2 separate regions of the Homo sapiens genome follow, and region 1 is reported to be linked to region 2. The links are microRNA targets in miRTarBase. Many come from high-throughput screens and were not tested one by one. Region 2 holds a microRNA gene; the other region holds the end of a gene's coding sequence.
Evidence for each region. Region 2 holds the annotated microRNA hsa-miR-6792-5p (GUAAGCAGGGGCUCUGGGUGA, at 1,218-1,238, shown strand). A microRNA usually pairs through its seed, bases 2 to 8, with sites in the 3' UTR of a target mRNA and lowers its output. Matches are read on the target gene's strand: a 7mer-m8 pairs with bases 2 to 8, a 7mer-A1 pairs with bases 2 to 7 and ends in A, and an 8mer does both.

Region 1 (3,333 bases), not on the chromosome of region 2:
TTTATGGGGAAATCCCTACTGTATTACAAAAGATGTTTAAAGATGACTTGGGAACCCGTAAAACTGATATTTATTAATGTAACTAACCAAGCGTAGATGTGACACCTCACTAGGGACCACTGTAATAAGGCTTCAGAGTTGAATCCTTTCCCTGGAAACCCACATAGAAAACGATGCACCCCTTTGGGTGGGTAGCAACTATGGAAGAGAAAAGCTTGTAATGTTTTGTACAGTGATACAGAGAGATGCAGGAATCTTAACACACAATAACCACTTTTATCTAGGTAACTTCCCAATATTCAAAAAAGACAGACACAATCATATAAATAACAAAAAGAGGAATTTGATTTTTGATTCATGGATGATGAGGAAAGAGATAACTAATTAGATGTTGAGATAACTAATGTAGACGTTTCCATTCATAGCGTTAAAACGCTGCAATCTGTCAAAAGCAAAAATTCAGAGCTAATTAACCATTAATGAAATTCTTTATTCAATAACCTGTTATTTCCTTTTTAAAAAAAATGAGAAAACCCAAATATTCTGGATAAATCAAAAGTTTTTGACAGTGAGATTTATTCGAAGTTTTAGCCCCCTATCTAATGGCCAGCCAGAAGGTAAAAGGAGAAATCTGTATTTCTGTTGGGAAGGAATGGTCTAAGTTAAAGAAAGGAAGCCTCAAAGAACCCAGACCTGATTATTAAAGCCATTTCTGGGCACTTGAGAGGTAAAGCTGGTCCTCATTAACTCTGCATATCTCTTCCCTTATCTCTAAGTTTGCAGCAGCATTTCCTATATCCCAAAGAAGGGGAATGTTCCCTTTAATATTTGTGCCAGCATCACCTTGACATTCAGGAAGTAAAATATAAATGCAGCTCCATTTTCCCACCTCCCATTTTCTTTCAGTAATTGCCAGCAAGCCTTCCATCATCTGCAAGTGGGGTGGGGGCAGTGTGAAGGAATTCTGCTAAAAGCGCTGCTGAAAAACCCACAGTGGCCTTTGGCCATCCAAGCAGCCATGGCTAACAGAAGGCACCTACTTTTCTATCTGAAGACTACAGGGCCCCCCAGACACGTTTTCCTTGCCAGCCCCTACCTAAGCTAAGATGGCAACTATCCCCTACCCAGTTAGGGCGTTGCCCACTTTCAAAACAAACCTTGGACAAAGAAGGATATGCTTGTGGGTCGCTTAACTCGAGGGACAGGGAAACGACAACTCAACGCCAGATGTTCTTACAACAGCGGTGGACTAACTGGTAGTCGGGAAGCTCCCTCAGTCCACTAAGTGAAGGCTGGTCTTGGAAAAGAACTGTCCCAGGCTGCCAAAGGGTTAAATATTTGTAAAGAGTAAAACCTGAGCCTCCGTGGGTTTTTTTTCTTTCTTTCTTTTGGGGTTTTTTGTTTTTGTGTATGCGCGGTTGCCCGGAGGCCTACTGGAGATTCAGTATCTCTCGGTTATTTCCTGCGATCACTAAAGCCAGTTTTCAAGAAAACAAGTCGCAGGGGTTTGAAATGTCACACCAAGTGACCTGGGCACGGCATATCCAGGGGCCATTCCCAGCTCCCTCCCACCCGGGCCACCCCCGACCCCCTCCACTTCGGTCTGGAAAGAAAATAAACCAAGGACACGCCAGACTGGTTCTGGGTGGACTTATTTTCCCGGCAGCCGCGCTCCTAGCGGGGGCTCGTTGCGGCCCCTCGGTGTATCGCTTGCAGGTGATGCCAAACGCAGATAAGCAGCCGCCGCCCGGCCCCCGCCTCTGTCTAGACTGTGGAATTAATAAATGCCGCGGATTGATCACGTCGCGCATCCACTCCGGGGACAGCGCGGGGCACGGCCCGTCACGGCCGCCCGCTCTGGCCGGGGTTGGCCTCACTGCTGTGCTGCAGGGCCAGGGGCAGCGCGCGGGGCTTCGAGCCTCACCCAGGGCCGCGGACCGCTGGGGAAGGAAGCGCCGGGAGGGCCCGCGGCGCCGAGCGAGAGTGGGGCTCGGGGCTCGGCAGGCGCCAGGCCAAGGCTGGTTCCGGGAGCGGGGCGCGCCCTCGCCCGCATAACCCTAGGCCGGAGTCCGCCGCTCAACCGCCACAAGTGCCGCAGGTTTCCCGCCCAAACGGGTCCCGCCTCCTGCCCGCGGGCCTGGGCCGCCAGGTGCCCAGGGGTCGCCAATGGGGCGCTCCTGCTTCTGGGAGGGCCCTCAGCGCGCATGCGCCCAGCCCCACCCCCTCGGCCGCGCCCAATCCCCACCGGGCCCGCCCCGCCCGCAGCACGCGGAGCCCCGGCAGCCGACGCCAGCCTGACCCCTGAACTGGCCTCCGCCGGCCCTCCCGCCGCGCCAACAGCACAGAGGAGTGGCGTCGCCCCGGGTTATTATTTTTTATTAAGATCAAAATACAAGTCCCACTATGAACTGGCTGTTCTCACAATAAATAACAATAACTTACGTTTGTTTGTTCGGCAAAGGCTCACATACTCTGTCCTCCGTCGAATAACTTAAACACTTTCAAGGCAAGTCTGGTTTCTACTGTTTCCCAGCAATCATGCGCTTTGGGAGTTTGAGTGTCTGTTCCTCTGAGTTATCCCCTTCCTTTTCCCCGCTAGGAGCCCGGGCGAAGCCGCCAGGGAGCGCTGAGCTGGGGCAGGGCGGGGGTCCGCGTGGGCGAGCTCCGGGCCGGCCGAGATGGGGACACAGGTGGGGCGTGGAGAGACAGAGCGGCGGCCACGTAGAGAGGAGAGGAGAGGGCAGAGCTAACCCTGGTAAGTCCCAGATTCTGGTTTTGAAAAACTAAGAGTCCTCGGAGCAGGGGTCTGCAGTCTGGTGAAAGCAGGTTGCATCCTGGCGCCTTGGGCTGTCCAGACCGTGTCTCTCGGTACTCTCTCATAAATAACAATAGAATAATTACGAAGGCGAGAGAGCTTTCGGAACTGGAATGGCCTGAGCATGGGTGAGTCTCATGCAGGGAGCATGCGAGGTCCGCGGGCTGGCAGGGAGGGGTCCCCCTCACGTCTCCACGGGACTCGGCACCATACTGTTGGGGGTGTCCGGGAGCTGCGAGGACAGGGAGGTCACGTCGCTGCCGGAGGAGTTGCCTAGGGAGCCGGACTCGGAGAAGGAGACCTGGGGCGGCGGAAACACCGGGAAGAGGCAGGTGAAGAGGCACGCGAGCTGGTGCTCCAGGGCCGCGTGCTCCGAGTCGGAAAGTGTCCCTTGGGGACCGGCCGCCAGCTGAGAGCAAGCCCTGCGGAGAAGGAGGCCAGGTCCCCAGGCGCACGAGGGGGGGATTAGGGCGGGGGAGCGGGTTGGTTAATCCTGCGACCTCTCTTGTGAGCACTTT
Region 2 (3,391 bases):
TAGGGATGTGGGGTGCAGTGGGATGAGGGGTCTTTCTTCTGTGGCTTCATGGATAGGAACCTTTGGGAGTATGTTTGGGGTGAGGCGTTGCCAGTAGGGGCTGACCCAGTGCTGCTCCCCACTTGCCTGCTGGGCAAAGCATCCTCCCTCATAGAGGGGTCCCCCCATAGGGGTGCTGCAGAGGGCCGAGGGGTCTTGGGCAGGACTGACTCCTCCTGTGTTCCCCCCACAGCCTGCTGGACCGGGTGTTGTGGAGGGCAGGGGCTTCTGGTGGGCACTGACCTGCAATCTCTGTCCCCAGGCTCTCGGCTGAGCAAAATCTATTCCCAGTCCACCCTGTCACTGTCCACTGTGGCCAACGAGGCCCACAATAACCTCGGGGTGAAGAGGCCCACGTCTCGGTGAGTTTAGCCCGCACAGGCGGGGTTCGTATGCCGGGTGGCTTCCCAGAGCCTGGGAGGTGTGTGGGCATCTGGGTGAACCTAGAGGGCGGTATGGCTCGAGTTTATGGATACGCCATGAAGAGATGGAGGGACGCGTGTGGGCACGTGTGCATGGGGCATAGTCTGTACCTGGCAGACAGGACTCAAGCATGTGCCTCAGTGCACTTGAGTGCCAGGTGTTCCTGTGGGAGGAGGACAGCACGGGGCACTGCATGGACTTGGGAGGGTGTGCAGTGTATACCGCCTCCTCTGCAGTGTGTGTGGCCCGCCTTTTTTTTTTTTTTTTTTTTTTTTGTTTTTTTGAGAGGGAGTCTTGCTGTGTCGCCCAGGCTGGAGTGCAGTGGCGCAATCTTGGCTCACGGCAACCTCCGCCCCCTGGGTGCAAGTGATTCTCGTGCCTCAGCCTCCTGAGTAGCTGGGGTTACCCGTGCCTGTAGAGACGGTGTTTCACCATGTTGGCCAGGCTGGCCTCGAACTCCCGACCTCAAGTGATCTGCCCGCTTTGGCCTCCCGAAGTGCTGGGATTACAGGCATGAGCCACGATGCCCAGCCGTGGCCCTTATTTTCCTTGGCCCCTCTGCACATAGGGAAGCTTCCCATCTCTGACCCCACCTCCATCCCATCCTGACCCCACCTCCATCCCATCCTTCTCCCACTGCAGGGCTCCCTCCCCGTCAGGTCTCATGTCCCCAAGCCGCCTGCCTGGAAGCCGCGAACGGGACTGGGAAAATGGCAGCAATGCCTCCTCCCCAGCGTCAGTGCCCGAGTACACAGGTAAGCAGGGGCTCTGGGTGATGTGAGGAGCAACAGGCACCCTCCTCCACAGCCCCTGCTCATTCCTGCTGCCCCCCACCCCCTCCCACTGCCTCACCCTCTAGGTCCACGGCTGTACAAAGAACCCAGCGCCAAGTCCAACAAGTTCATCATCCACAATGCCCTATCACACTGCTGCCTGGCGGGCAAGGTGAACGAACCGCAGAAGAATCGCATTCTGGAGGTGAGCCCGCCCACACGTGGGAGTTGGGGGCTGGTGGGTGGGTGGGTGGCCTGACTTGGCCAGCTGACCATTTCCAGCACTCCTGCCCAGGAAATTGAGAAAAGCAAGGCCAACCACTTCCTGATCCTCTTTCGCGACTCGAGCTGCCAGTTCCGGGCGCTCTACACGCTGTCGGGGGAGACAGAGGAGCTGTCGCGGCTGGCAGGGTATGGGCCCCGGACCGTCACGCCCGCCATGGTGGAAGGCATCTACAAGTACAACTCGGACCGCAAGCGCTTCACCCAGATCCCCGCCAAGACCATGTCCATGAGCGTCGATGCCTTCACCATCCAGGGACACCTCTGGCAGGGCAAGAAACCCACCACTCCCAAGAAGGGCGGCGGCACCCCCAAATAGCCCCACCCGGGCGGTCCACGGGCCGGGCCCTGTGTGCTGCGGCCGCCATCCCCTGGAGGACAGTCAGTCGGTATTCCTGGGTCCTGTCTGTCCCCAACCGTGTCTGGGTGGGGCTGGAGTCTCCACCCTCTGACTTTGAGTCCAGTCCTGCTGTGGGGGCTGAGCTGGGAGGTTCAGGGACTCAGGGCTCAGCTCAGTCCCCTTGTCTGTCCTCCCCCACTTCTTGAATAAAATAATTTAAAGAGAAGTTGAACCTTGTCCCCCCCTCCGAGGCTGGCCGGGGTCCCACACTCCCTGGCTGTGTTTTTAGTCTCCTGTTCTTTCTCAAACCAACTCCTGTCTTCAACCCCCATAATCCCCTAATGCAGCTTCAGCCAGGGCACTCCCAGCCCCCAGCCAGGGCTGTTTCGAAGCTGCCTCTGAACTGATCTCTCAGGCTCGAGGTGTCCCACTGGCCCTTCCTGTGGCCTTGGCCACCCCCGCTTGCTGGATTCTCCTGGTCTGTGTGGCTGTTGTTACTGGCCCTAACCAGCGTTTGGCATGGGGCCAACTTCTAACTTGATCTTGTCTCCCCTGGCCAGCCTGGTGTTTCCAGGCCTGGCATCTACCTCTGGGCCAGTGATTCCAGGTTTCTCTGAGATCTGTGTTTGACAATCCAGTTGCCCCCTGCCATTGCCTGGGTGTCTCTCTCAGATGCAAGGCCTGCCCTGCAACCCAGGCTGGCACTGGCTTCCCAGCTGCCGCCCAGTTCTACACAGCTCAGCCCTCCCCTCCTGTCTCACTCGCTTCTCTCCAGCCCTGTCACCTCCCTGCAAAGTCCAAGCCAATGGCCTGGGCCTCCCCATGTCCCCAGCTGCCTCCTGCCCACACAGCAGCCTGTGTGACCCGTTCGAAGCACAAATCTGATTATATCCCTTGATACTTAAAACCCCTTAATAGCCTACAGCCCGCTAATGGCTTCCCAGGCTTAGGACTAAGGACCACGCCCTGGTCCTGGGCCGTGCACAAGGTCTGGCGCCTGGCCCCCGTCCAGGCACAGAAACGCGTTACTAATCAGTTCCCAGAGCTGGGCCAGAGCCTGCCTGACTCCAAGACTTGAGGGCAAGGGCCAGTCCCTAGTGGGGAACAGACAGTGGGTGCCACCCCAGGGAGGCGGCAGCTGCCTGGGGCCACAGAAGGGCTCTGAGAGGCAGGGGCTGGCGAGACCTGGGCAGCCAGGGGCTGGATTGCCCTTCCCAGGCTACAGAGGCTCAAGGAAGTTTCCGGGCAGGACCCACTCCAAGGCCCCAGGCAGCGGAGGGACTGGCCTCTCGAGTCCAGAACTGGCTCTGCGGGGTGAGGCCGGGCAGTATCTGGCCTGGGGCCCAGCCGCCCCACCTCCCACAGCAGCCAATCCCGGCCCAGGGCCAGGCACTCCTGAGCTGTACTCCCTCGGGCACCTGGGCAGCAGGAAGGAGGCTCAGACCATGATGTACAAACGTAGCTGTATTGGGGAGGGGGTGGGGAGGGGGGATGGGGGAGGGACGGGTCAGTCTTCCTTCAGGCTCCCAAACAC

Region 1: the mRNA of ISL2 is a reported target of hsa-miR-6792-5p. The part of its 3' UTR that is shown has no 7-base or 8-base seed match.

The regions. Positions count from the first base shown.
Region 1 is chr15:76,341,502-76,344,834 of GRCh38, reverse strand. It overlaps ISL2 (ISL LIM homeobox 2), which reads right to left. Exons shown (of 6, transcript NM_145805.3): 6 at 2,360-3,116. The coding sequence ends at 3,000. LOC124903532 reads left to right here and starts at 1,411. Exons shown (of 1, transcript XM_047433420.1): 1 at 1,411-2,442. The coding sequence starts at 1,411. The coding sequence ends at 2,055.
Region 2 is chr19:7,616,222-7,619,612 of GRCh38, forward strand. It overlaps MIR6792 (microRNA 6792), which reads left to right and starts at 1,218; the gene lies at 1,218-1,284. It overlaps CAMSAP3 (calmodulin regulated spectrin associated protein family member 3), which reads left to right. Exons shown (of 17, transcript NM_020902.2): 14 at 302-401; 15 at 1,105-1,217; 16 at 1,322-1,440; 17 at 1,531-2,083. The coding sequence ends at 1,836. It overlaps XAB2 (XPA binding protein 2), which reads right to left. Exons shown (of 19, transcript NM_020196.3): 19 at 3,304-3,391. The coding sequence ends at 3,365.